Linked DNA regions of Homo sapiens: all the other regions are reported to be linked to region 1. The links are microRNA targets in miRTarBase. Many come from high-throughput screens and were not tested one by one. Region 1 holds a microRNA gene; each other region holds the end of a gene's coding sequence.
Evidence for each region. Region 1 holds the annotated microRNA hsa-miR-6830-3p (UGUCUUUCUUCUCUCCCUUGCAG, at 2,175-2,197, opposite strand). A microRNA usually pairs through its seed, bases 2 to 8, with sites in the 3' UTR of a target mRNA and lowers its output. Matches are read on the target gene's strand: a 7mer-m8 pairs with bases 2 to 8, a 7mer-A1 pairs with bases 2 to 7 and ends in A, and an 8mer does both.

Region 2: miRTarBase lists SLC30A1 as a target of hsa-miR-6830-3p. Seed matches in the 3' UTR shown: 7mer-A1 at 2,593-2,599.
Region 3: the mRNA of SUSD1 is a reported target of hsa-miR-6830-3p. The part of its 3' UTR that is shown has no 7-base or 8-base seed match.
Region 4: miRTarBase lists CCDC83 as a target of hsa-miR-6830-3p. Seed matches in the 3' UTR shown: 7mer-A1 at 982-988.

The regions. Positions count from the first base shown.
Region 1 is chr5:132,215,675-132,218,808 of GRCh38, forward strand. MIR6830 (microRNA 6830) reads right to left here and starts at 2,244; the gene lies at 2,175-2,244. P4HA2 (prolyl 4-hydroxylase subunit alpha 2) reads right to left here. Exons shown (of 15, transcript NM_001017974.2): 2 at 2,871-2,970; 3 at 2,078-2,174; 4 at 1,523-1,674. The coding sequence starts at 2,952.
Region 2 is chr1:211,572,554-211,575,687 of GRCh38, reverse strand. It overlaps SLC30A1 (solute carrier family 30 member 1), which reads left to right. Exons shown (of 2, transcript NM_021194.3): 2 at 1-3,134. The coding sequence ends at 300. Among named protein-coding and RNA genes, the nearest start is that of SLC30A1, 5.0 kb to the left of the region's middle.
Region 3 is chr9:112,038,761-112,041,894 of GRCh38, reverse strand. SUSD1 (sushi domain containing 1) reads left to right here. Exons shown (of 17, transcript NM_022486.5): 16 at 1-28; 17 at 403-1,112. The coding sequence ends at 403. LINC02977 (long intergenic non-protein coding RNA 2977) reads left to right here and starts at 1,471. Exons shown (of 3, transcript NR_186812.1): 1 at 1,471-3,134. RefSeq lists enhancers at 1-223, 1-828, 224-863.
Region 4 is chr11:85,919,009-85,922,142 of GRCh38, forward strand. It overlaps CCDC83 (coiled-coil domain containing 83), which reads left to right. Exons shown (of 11, transcript NM_001286159.2): 11 at 341-1,005. The coding sequence ends at 502. Among named protein-coding and RNA genes, the nearest start is that of CCDC83, 65 kb to the left of the region's middle.

The DNA.
Region 1 (3,134 bases):
AGAGGCAGTGAAGAGCTGGGTACAATGGCACTGTGCCTATAGTCCCAGCTACTCAGGAGGCTGAGGCAGGAGGATCACGTGAGGCCAGGAGTCCAAGGTTGCAGTGTGCTACAATCGCACCTGTGAATAGCCACTGCACTCCAGTCTAGGCTAATATAGTGAGACCCTGTCCCTTTAAAAAAAAAAAAAAAAAAAAAAAAAAAGGCAGCGGGCATGGTGGCTCACACCTGTAATCCCAGCACTTTGGGAGGTGGAGATGGGTGGATCACGAGGTCAAGAGATCAAGAACATCCTAGCCAACATGGTGAAACCCTGTCTCTACTAAAAATACCAAAAAAAAATTAGCTGGGCATGGTGGCATGTGCCTATAGTCCCAGCTAGTCAGGAGGCTGAGGCAGAAGAATTGCTTGAACCCGGAGGCAGAGGTTGCAGTGAGCCGAGATCCCGCCACTACACTCCAGCCTGGTGACAGAGTGAGACTCAGTCTCAAAAAAAAAAAAAAAAAAAAAAAAAGTCAGTGAGTCCAGGGGACTAAACCCAGGGCTAGGAGTTAGGAGAGCCCACCTCCAGGCCCACCGTACCATCTCTTCTTATTGACAGAAAAGTATTAGGGCATAAAAAGTATTATCACAATAAAAGCACCAAGTATAGTTTAAAGCTTTTAAAAAGTTCACACTCTCATCGGTAATATCACTTCTAGGAACTTACCCTAAAAAAGTAATCAGAAGTATACACCAAGAAATATGTAAAAAGGTGCTGATAATTCAGAAAAAATCCCATATCCAATGACTTGACCCATTTGACAGTATTATCAGTATGACAGATTATCACCATCTGACAGGTAATCACCATCCAGCCATTAAAATCATGTTGCAGAAGAACATTGAATGGCATATAAAGAAGCTGAGAAATTCACAGAATTTTTTCTTCTGTCACAAATCTACCAACAGATATGCTTTGTTTGTAAAACATATGAATAGGAATGAATTTAGATCAGACCTATGCTCCCCAACTTGCCCTGGCCCCACCATCCAGCCCACTTGACACTTGTAAATTCATTGTCCCTCCAAGCAACTGAGTTTGCATGCCCTGGTATGTATGTATAGTTCCATTTTTTAAATGTATATGCATAGGTAGAAAAACTACAATTTTAATAATGCTCACCACTGGGCAACTGGATTAAGAATTATAATTCTCTTGTTTTTGTGTTTTCCGACTTTTCTATAAACATGTATCACTAAAGTATAATTGGAAAAATGTCATTAGCAAAAAATAAGAAAAGACAGACACTAAAAAAAAGACGCTAAAAAAAGAACTGAACATCATTACATGTTAAAAACCAAGGCCAGCCAACTTCCAGGTCCCCACAGAGAAGGGAGAGAGCCATGAGACCAGCAGGGTCCTGTTTCCACAATGTACTTGCCCACCAACACCCAGACCCAAGACAGGCTCAGACACAACAACCCAGGCATGAGCACACAAACATATGGGCTCACTCAAGCACCTGCTCACCGTCCCTCACCTGCAGCTGAGTCCTGCAGGACAAGGTCCTCCAGCGCAGGCCAGTCTGTGTTTAGCCGCTTCACCAGTTTGTAGGCATTCACAGGGTGAGCCAGGTAGCCCTCAGCATCAGCAGCTGACTTGCTAGTCAAGGCTTCCATTTTGTTGGCCCAGCTGTGGAACCAGAGGAAAAGGAAGACTAATGCGTCCACCCACATAGGTCTTGACCTGTGACAATTTTCCTAGTGAGAATTCCCTGGTGCCAGGTTCTGGGGCCCTTTTCATCAAGAGGCAATGAAAAATGAATACAGTAACTCCCCACAGATACTTCTAGCCCCTTAATCTAGATAACAGCTGGGACCCCCAATGTAAGGGAAAAGGTCTTAAATAGAAAATAAACAGTGACTCCTTAGCCCATGTACTTAGCTCCTCTCAAGCACTGGCATGAAGTAACCAGGCCAGCCCCACATCACCCTCTCAAAGGTTTCCTCTTATAGGCACCCTGGATGGCTTCCTTGTTCCTTGAGGGGCAGAAGGGAAGGAAGGCCAACTAAGGATGGTTGGGGACTTAGGACACCTCTTAATCTTGGAAAGCTTGGCTTCCTCCACAAGGATGTACTCTTTCAGAGACTGCACCAGCTCTTTCTCTGCATAAATCAGGTCAGTCATGTGCCCTGCAAGGGAGAGAAGAAAGACACCAGTGAGAAACAGATGAGGGATGTCCAGCCTCCTTCCTTGGGGCACAGAATACCAGCACAGAAGCAAGTCCCCTGGGATAAGAACATGTCAGCTCTCTGAGGATTATGGGGACTTGGAGTTAAAGGGGGCCTAGGCACTCATGGGGCTCTATCTCGCAACTTCAGGAAGAAAGAGGCAGAGGCACCAAGGGGATGTTTGAGATAAGTGCACTGGATGTCACTCAAGAAGCAGCCCTAAATCTCATTCTCCGACTGTTACATAGCTGGTCATGACACTGGGGCATGGATATCCTGGGGGCTCACCACAGGATAAAAAGCTCTGAACTTTAGGTCGGAAGGATAGGAAAAGCTTGATCCTCAGGATACAAAGGATTTGCTGCTCAGAACCACTCTCTGGTCCATGGGCAAGGTGGTCAAAAAGACCAGAGAGCCCAAGTGCAGCCTGCACTTCCCAGGAAGAAAGACCCAATTCAGACATCTGGCTCCCTGAACATCCAGATCATTGGGATCTTATAGGGGAAAACAGCAACTCTGCCAGTTCCACTCTCCTCAGAACTGGCCAAAACCAGTAGTTAAGGCTATCCCACTCTAAATGAGAACAGGCTGCAGCCAGAGACATCCGTGGCATGTGAGCCAAGGTGTCAGGGAGACGACAGTCCTGTTGGCACGTACCAATAGAGGTGAAGAATTCGGCCTGCACACAGCTCAGGACACCAAACCAGGCCATCAGCAATGCAGACACCCAGAGTTTCATGGTCACAGAGGGAAGTGTCTGAAAGGCATTCAATGACAATCACTGGATCAACAAAGTGAAAAAGACTAATTTAGGTGAGGAGACACATAGGCATGTACACACATATGCAGATAATCAAACATATCAAAATCCTGGCCTAGCACACAGAAGCTAAAAAGGACAAACAGCAGAAAGAACAAAGA
Region 2 (3,134 bases), not on the chromosome of region 1:
AATCACGGAATTCACGCTACTACCATTCAGCCTGAATTTGCTAGTGTAGGCTCTAAATCAAGTGTAGTTCCGTGTGAACTTGCCTGCAGAACCCAGTGTGCTTTGAAGCAATGTTGTGGGACACTACCACAAGCCCCTTCTGGAAAGGATGCAGAAAAGACCCCAGCAGTTAGCATTTCTTGTTTAGAACTTAGTAACAATCTAGAGAAGAAGCCCAGGAGGACTAAAGCTGAAAACATCCCTGCTGTTGTGATAGAGATTAAAAACATGCCAAACAAACAACCTGAATCATCTTTGTGAGTCTTGAAAAAGATGTGATATTTGACTTTTGCTTTAAACTGCAAGAGGAAAAAGACTCCACTGAAATTCTAAGTTTGCCAAGTAGTGTAATTGAAGTCCTTGTCTGGTCACACAGTTTAATTCTATTTTTGTAAGAACATAATGGGACTGCATAACAGAGTTCTATATTACAATTTTGTGATTATTAGTACAGAGTACAGCTATGCTGTGACTGTTTTGGAAAGCCAGTTTTAACACTATGTTACATTTTTGTTTAAAGTAAGTTAAACCTTATATAACATAATGACATTTGATTTCTGGATTTTTCCCATGATAAAAATTAGGGGGATAAATAAAATTGTTACTGGAATTTCTCTGCTTTTCTTTTCCCCCAGTGTTATACTTTATTAGAATTATAATTGATAGAACTTTAAAATCATCAACAGTTTGTTTCCTTTGACATTTTAGGTGATATTGCCCTTTGAGATCATTACATAGCATAATGGCAGCATATTTTAAGAGTGACTCATGGCTATTAGTAGGAAATAAGATCAGTTACTATCCTGTATTCTGTATTGCTGGCTATTAAACAGTAAGATAATTAACAAATTGAACTACAGTTTACACACAATGGGGCAAATGGGGTAGTAAGAGCAAGGAAGAAAGTTTACCAAACTAAATATTTAGGTTATTGTATGATAATATTGAGACTACATTTCTAAATTATTTTGAGAATTTCAACTTTTTATTCTACCAAAGTTAATCTGAAACTTGGACATGTTCACCAGCATTACTTTCTTTGAAAGATTGGTATAAAAACATTGAGCTGCAAGTTTATTTACAAAATATATAAGTATTTTTAAGGATGTTGACACCTAATAATTACATGCTAAACGCAAACGATTAATGTAATCTTTTAAACCGGGCGTTTGAAAAAAAATTTTCAAGGTCATTTCATGATAACCAATCATGAATGGATTTAAATGGAGCTTTTTGAGCACAACCAGCAATGTTTGTGCTTTCTAAGAGTCACTGACTTGAGAGGAAAGAAAACCAGAAGGTTAATGCAGTTTGGATATTAAATTCTTAGCAAAATTAATAATTAAAGCAAAATTAATTAAGATTTTGTAAGTCATCCTGTCTTCACATACTCAGATCTTCCAATAGTGGCTTATTTTGCAAGATGCCACAATATCTACACAGAAAATTGTGGCTATTTCATTATTGCTATAGATTTCAAATCCAACACAAATATTTAAGGGTGTTTAAGTTATATTTTTCTTGATAGAGGGTATGCTTTGTGACAAAATTAGATTTTTGTCCTTGAAAGGATTAATATTAGCATCAGTTATGTATAGCTCTATTTTTCTAGAAACAAGGTATTCTGACTACTTTTATAGCTGACTACTTTTGGGATGGCTACGTTTTGGGATTTAAAATAGTTCATTGTTTAATGGGTTGTAAGAGGAAAAAGTGTTAGGATTTGACAGTTACTTTTTAAAGGGATGATCTTTTGTGGTGTGTGTTTTTCCTAGTATAAGCCTATTGCTGGCGATGGGCCTATTTAAGAACAGCTGATTTTTTCCAGTGAAAATATGGTAATTTTAGGAACACAGTTTGTAAGTTCACATTTACTATAATGGGCCAAAACCATAACCTGCCAGTTTGCAATACATCTTGATCTTTTAATATTCTTATCTGATATTGTGTAATTCAATTCCTAAACTGATAGTTACCTTGAATTTTGCGAAAAGGTTTGGGTGGTTTTTTTTAAACATGAAATTGAGGGATCTCATCTGGGCGAACAAGAAGAGAAAGCTGTGAATTGTACTGTATCATGTACATTCCTGATTTAATACTTTACAGAACATTTTATTCAGATATCAATTTGTTACATAAACATTTCAGCAATGATACAAAGATAACTGATAAAATATATTACATTCAATGAGGTTTTCTTTACAAATGCTCTACTTGAGGTCTGTGTCTTAAAGATGGCATGACACCTAAGTACAAGACATCAACTGAATGAGGATTTTAAAAAATGGTATATAAGCATAGGACAAGGGCTATGTTTGTTTGTTTTTCAAAAGTGCTTTGAAGATAACAGCCTTTAGGTTTGAGTTATTTCACTTTTCATAATTTTTAAGTAGCTTATATATAATGGTGGTACCATAGGATTTTCTTTTTTCAAATGACTGTCGGCAGAAACAGTGGGCACTGACTCACCTTTTGAGTTTTAGCAGAGAATTATTTATTTCTTTACAATGCACTTTCTAACCCATTGTAGCTATATTAGCATTATCTTTTAAAAAAGACATGCTTTTGTATTTAAATATTGTAGGATTTAAGTGTCTTTCTCAAAATAGCTTATTCCTTTCTGAAAGAAAATGAGGGAAATACTCTGAATTATTAGGAGACTTAAACCCAATATTTAAATATGCTATTTTATAACACTGCATCAGTTTTAGGAGTTGCATCTCTCCTGCTGGCTCTTTTATATTTGAGCAAGATCAGTGTAGAATATGTGTTTAGAAACTTGTCTGTTGTCTCAGTTTAGTGAAAAGGAGGTGCTGCATGTGCCTGAATTAAAACCAAGAAATTTTTCCAAGCCAAATGCAGCCTTAGTGATGAGAGATTTAATTCTCCATTGTCACCTTTTAGCTTTTATGATTGCTTAGTTTTTTCTGAAGGATGTCTGCATTGTAAAACTATGGACTAAAACCTAAAAAACAGAATCCTCAAAAACTTTGCTGTATGTGTTTTAACATTTTAGAGAACAGTATGTTGAATAACTAAGGTATGTAACTTGAATAGGAAAAATGTCCATCAAATGCACCTTGGAAAATCACAGT
Region 3 (3,134 bases), not on the chromosome of region 1:
TCACATTCCTCTCCTTCTCAGCGGTGTGGTATGTGAGGGTGTCATTTTTGAGAAATGACTGGAATGGAGGGGAGGATGGGTCAGAGTCACGAAGAACAGCTGGGGATGAGGGGAGTCAAAGGGAGTGTGGGTGGAGGTTGTCCTTGGCTCAGCAGAGCACACTCAGCGGTGAAAGGCATGACTAACCCTGTACCTCCAGGTAGCATGGGGGATGCCTTCCCAGGAAAAGAGCAGGACCAGTGATGGCTGCCCTGGCCACACACAGAGGGGTGGCTGAGCTTCCATGCTGCTCCCCCTCGCCTCCTCCCATGGGTGTGCGTGTGAGCTGTGCATAGAGATGCACAGTGGGAAAACCAAAGTGTGTTCATATTTGTCTCTTTTCTTTTCCTCCTCCATGTCTAGATGGCAGATGGACACTGAGTGGGGAGGATGCACTGCTGCTGGGCAGGTGTTCTGGCAGCTTCTCAGGTGCCCGCACAGAGGCTCCGTGTGACTTCCGTCCAGGGAGCATGTGGGCCTGCAACTTTCTCCATTCCCAGCTGGGCCCCATTCCTGGATTTAAGATGGTGGCTATCCCTGAGGAGTCACCATAAGGAGAAAACTCAGGAATTCTGAGTCTTCCCTGCTACAGGACCAGTTCTGTGCAATGAACTTGAGACTCCTGATGTACACTGTGATATTGACCGAAGGCTACATACAGATCTGTGAATCTTGGCTGGGACTTCCTCTGAGTGATGCCTGAGGGTCAGCTCCTCTAGACATTGACTGCAAGAGAATCTCTGCAACCTCCTATATAAAAGCATTTCTGTTAATTCATTCAGAATCCATTCTTTACAATATGCAGTGAGATGGGCTTAAGTTTGGGCTAGAGTTTGACTTTATGAAGGAGGTCATTGAAAAAGAGAACAGTGACGTAGGCAAATGTTTCAAGCACTTTAGAAACAGTACTTTTCCTATAATTAGTTGATATACTAATGAGAAAATATACTAGCCTGGCCATGCCAATAAGTTTCCTGCTGTGTCTGTTAGGCAGCATTGCTTTGATGCAATTTCTATTGTCCTATATATTCAAAAGTAATGTCTACATTCCAGTAAAAATATCCCGTAATTAAGATTGTTCTTCCCTTGGTTAATTTTTCTGTTACTAAGCGTCTTCTAAAAATGCTCTTTGCCCCCTGTTAGAAACTGAGATTTGGTGGTAGTGTAGTAGCAATGCTTAAAACAGTATTGAGCCCATGGCTAGACTAGAGTCCATGTGTGTTTCAGGGGAGGGGTTGCCATAGAGGGTGACACTTCTTTTATCTAAACTTCAGTAACTATGAATGTTACTCCATTATGAACTATGAAACATTAGATATAAGCGGTGCTGGACCTACTGTGAATATGCTAAGTTGACAGCTGGAGTCTATTTGATTTTACTTTTAAATCATGAATTGGCATTCTTTCCTCTTTTTTTTTTTTTTTTTTTTGAGATGGACTCCCACTCTGTTGCCCAGGCTGGAGGGAAGTGGCGTGATCTCAGCTCACTGCAACCTCTGCCTCCCGGGTTCAAGTGATTCTCCTGCCTCAGCCTCCCATGTAGCTGGGACCACAGGGCCCCCCCACCACGCCCAGGTAATTTTTGTATGTTTAGTAGAGATGGAGTTTCACCATGTTGGCCAGGGTGGTTTCAAACTCCTGATCTCAGTTGATTCGCCCACCTTTGCCTCCCAAAGTGCTGAGATTACAGGTGTGAGCCACACGCCCGGCACTAACTAACAATTTAACTCCAAGACTCAGTAAGAAACGAATGGGGAAGGAAAGACAGAGGCTTCTGGCATCTCTCCTTCTCCCTTGCCTGCTAGGCCTAGAGAAGAAAAACCATGGAGGAGGGGAGGTGATACTGCACAGCCTCAAGATGCAGCATAGACGAATGCAGTCCTTAGCAAAAGGAAAGGGCTTCCCAATGCAGTGGGCCGGTGTGTTCACCGGCTTGCTGGGTGTCAGTGAGGGAAGACTCTGAGTGCCTTGGGCTTATGGGCAGATGAAGAGACAAGAGGAACAAGTACAAACTGCCCATGTAGCTGCTCCACCCCAGGGAGTCCAGAGTGTATCCGCTCTATTGGGAAGAATTAGAGAGAGGCGAGTAATATCCTGACATTCAGGTGTTCAATGCCAGCTGTCAGCCTCTGGCCCCTGCCAGTGTTAGGAATGATTCCCCTGTCCTCTGGGGTACTGCCCTCCGACGACAACTTAGGATCAGCATTTAAAACCCTTTCTGCTCTCGTCTTAGGTAAATTATAGACCAGAACGGGTCTATAATGGGGACAGGTCCCCATCCTAACCCCCAGAGACCGTTTCTCTCAATAGATGAATACAAATAGCTCTCAATTTTTAATTTTTATGTGCAATAATGCAAACATACTTTTTTTTTTTTTTGAGACGGAGTCTCACTCTTTCTCCCAGGCGGGAGTGTAGTGGCGCTATCTCGACTCACTGCAAGCTCCGCCTCCCGGGTTCACGCCATTCTCCTGCCTCAGCCTCTGGAGTAGCTGGGACTACAGGTATCCGCCACCGTGCCCAGCTAATTTTTTGTATTTTTAGTAGAGATGGGGTTTCACCGTGTTAGCCAGGATGGTCTCGATCTCATGACCTCGTGATCCACCCGCCTTGGCCTCCCAAAGTGCTGGTATTACAGGCATGAACCACCACGCCTGGCCGCAAACATACATTTTTATAGCTCCTGAACTAAATTGGGTATCAATACAAATTACTGTGGTTAGTGTAGGGCTCGGCCTCTGATGAGTGAGGATCTTTCCTCAAAGCCCACCTTTGTCCAAAGAAAGAATCTGAGCCTCCCCTTGACTTATTTTATTTTTTGCCAGTTTTGTAAATGCTGTATGCTTCCATACTACCCCCTTCCCTAATTTCCACCTCTAGAATTAACTGCCAGAGATACAGTTGTCCACATGGAATGTAGTATAATTGTGATAGAAAGGAAGAAATCCCCCTTGCTTAGTATTAAAAGTTTCTGGTTAAAATAACTGACTAAATATTAAGTAAAACATCACCTTCTGGGTACAATGCAGAAAAGTAAAAGCAGTTCATATAAGATTACTAAACTTTGGGAGGTCTTCAAGACCAGCCCTGGCAAC
Region 4 (3,134 bases), not on the chromosome of region 1:
TTTATTTTCCTTTCACAGACTATAGTTAGTTTTGCACTAACTATAGCCAGCATCCCTCCCCCATTAACCCACTATGAGACAAGCCTTCCAGCCTTGCTGCCTGCTTTTGGAAGATCTTGCCTACTGTGTATGCCCTACTGGGTATATAAGTTTCCTGAGTATTTTGTTTTTTTCCCATTTATAGTGGCTCTCATATTTCATGTGCTACACAGCATCAGGCAATTAGGGGGCAATGAAGTCTGTCAGATAAAGGCCAACTGTAATAAAGAAAGCCTAATCTATCAAGCTGGTAATTTGCTGAATCACCTCTCCTATTCTTTTTTGTGCCTGTTCACCATAGGATTATGTAAACTTGGGCCCCCTGGGAGTGAAGCTTATGAGTGTGGAGAGCAAGAAAATGCCCATTCATTTTCAAGAGAAGGAAATTCCAGTCAAACTCTATAAAGATGTCAGGAGCCCAGAAAGCCACATCACATATAAGATGATGAAGTCTTTTCTCTAAGACGGAAAGCTGCAAAGGAAACACAACTTTTCCTTATAAATGTTCTTTGGGAACTGAAGTATATCCGTTGCCCATTTTACTTACACTTTGGCTCATTTTTAAACCAGCTGTTATTTCTAAAGGTCATATTTACATTTAAAATCAAAGGTATTCAGCTATTCATTTACTTGCATGGTATGAGTGACCAAAACGGAAGCACGCTTTGTATTTCTACACTGAAGTATTCAGAAGCATGACAGTGGGTTCAAGGTAGTCTCTGAGGTTCCTTTTCACACACAAAAAATTCACTGATTAATCTGTGATTCCAGTATGAAATAGTTCCATTAGAAATGTTTCTAAGAAAAACTTAGAAGTTTGCATAGCATTGTCTACACATCTTTCCCTCTGAGGATGCTCAATGTGATAGACAGCCAGTCTATAATGCAAGCCAATTCTCCGTAGTTTAACCCTGTGTATTAGTCTGTTCTCATGCTGCTAATAAAGACATAATTGAAACTGGGTAATTTATAAAGGAGGTTTAATTTATTTACAGTTCAACATGGCTGGGGAGGCCTCACAATCATGTCAGAAGGCAAATGAGGAGCAAAGTCACATCATACATGGTGGCAGGAAAGAGAGGGCTTGTGTAGGGGAATTCCCATTTATAAAACTATCAGATCTTGTGAGACTTATTTACTACTTCAAGAACAGTATGGGAAAAACCTGCCTCCATGATTCAATTACCTCCTACCAGGTCCCTCCCACAACACATGGGGATTATGGGAACTATAATTCAAGATGAGATTTGGGTGGGGACATAGCCAAACCATATCACCCTGTTTATAATGAATATAAAAAATGAATGTTGGAAATAAACTTGAGAGTGTTAATTTGTTGTATAAAAATATTCCACTGATAGGGAGCACTCCCTCCCTCCAGCTGTATCTAGTCTAAACTACCACATTCCTATCCAAAGCAAATACCACTTCTCTCAGGGCTACCACAAGCCAAGGACACTGTGAGTACCTGGATGTGACATCAGCATTCCATTTGGATCCTTGAGACCAGATAATACCACCATATGTCATATTTCTGTAATCTTTAGTGATATAAGGATTAATTTAATCATCAGTGGGGGATGTTATTGGCATTTAAAGTAAGGACAATTGTGCAGCACTGTCTTGAGCCCACAGGATGTTAGCACTCCTGCTCCCTCAATCTCAAATGCTGCTACATTAACACTCTTCATTGTAGAAGTTGAAAACACTCGTCATCTTTCCCAACACCCCTTACATTGTAGTACCATCACCAATTGAACATCTTTGAGTTTCTCAATTTTTGGAGACAAGGACTCACTCTGTCACCCAGGCTAGAGTGCAGTGGCACTATCATAGCTCACAGCATCCTGAAACTCCTGGGCTCAAGCAATCCTCCTGCCTCAACCTCCCGAGTAGCTGGGACTGCAGGTCTGTACTATCATGCCTCAACCTCCAACAGTGCTAGGATTACAGGCATGAGCCACCGACCGGCCTCTCCTGTACTTTAATCTCCATTGTGTTCGGTGCTTTCCTGGACCCTTCCCATTCTCTCCCAAAACTTCCAACAACAACCTCTAAAAAAACAATAAACAAGACAAATGCCACTGTTGAAGGTGTAAATGTCCAAGGGGTTCACCTTGCCTGCTGCCTATACAGAGCCAATTCCTCAAGACAGGGGAGCCGGGCATGGTGGCTCACCCCTGTAATCCCAGCATTTTGGGAGGCCGAGGCGGGTAGATCACAAGGTCAGCAGATCAAGACCATCCTGTCAAGACCATCCTGGCTAACACGGTGAAACCCCTTCTCTACTAAAATTACAAAAAAATTAGCCAGGTGTGGTGGCAGGCGCCTGTAGTCCCAGCTACTTGGGAGGCTGAGGCAGGAGAATGGAGTGAACCCGGGAGGCGGAGGTTGCAGTGAGCCGAGATCGCACCACTGCACTCCAGCCTGGGCAACACAGCAAGACTCCGCCTCAAAAAAAAAAAAAAAAAAAAAAAAAAGAGGGGAATTGCAACAGACAAAAGAGTAATTCACACAGAGCCAGCTGTGCGGGAGACCAGCGTTGTTTTATTACTCAAATCATTCTCCCTTAGCATTCGGGGAGCAGAGTTTTTAAGGACAACATGGTAGATGTGGGGAAGCCAGTGAGCCGGGACTGCTGATTGGTCAGAGATGAAATCATAGGGAGCCAAAGCTGTCCTCCTGACCAAATCAGTTCCTAGATGGGGGGGCCACAAGATCAGATGAGCCAGTTTATCAATCTAGGTAGTGCCAGCTGATTCATGATGTGCAGGGTCTGCAAAATATCTCAAGCACTGATCTTAGGAGCAGTTTAGAGACAGTCAGAATCTTGTAGCCTCCAGCTGCATGACTCCCAAACCATAATTTCTAATCTTGTGGCTAATGTTAGTCCTACAAATGCAATCTACTCCCTAGGCAAGAAGGAAGACTGCTTTGGGAAAGGGCTGTTATCATCTTTGTTTTAAACTGTATACTAAGTTTTTCCCAAAGTTAGTTGACCCTCCGCCCAAGAATGAAAAGGACAGTTTGGAGATTAGAAGCAAGATGGAGTCAATTAAATTAGATCTCTTTCGCCGTCTTGGTCATAATTTTGC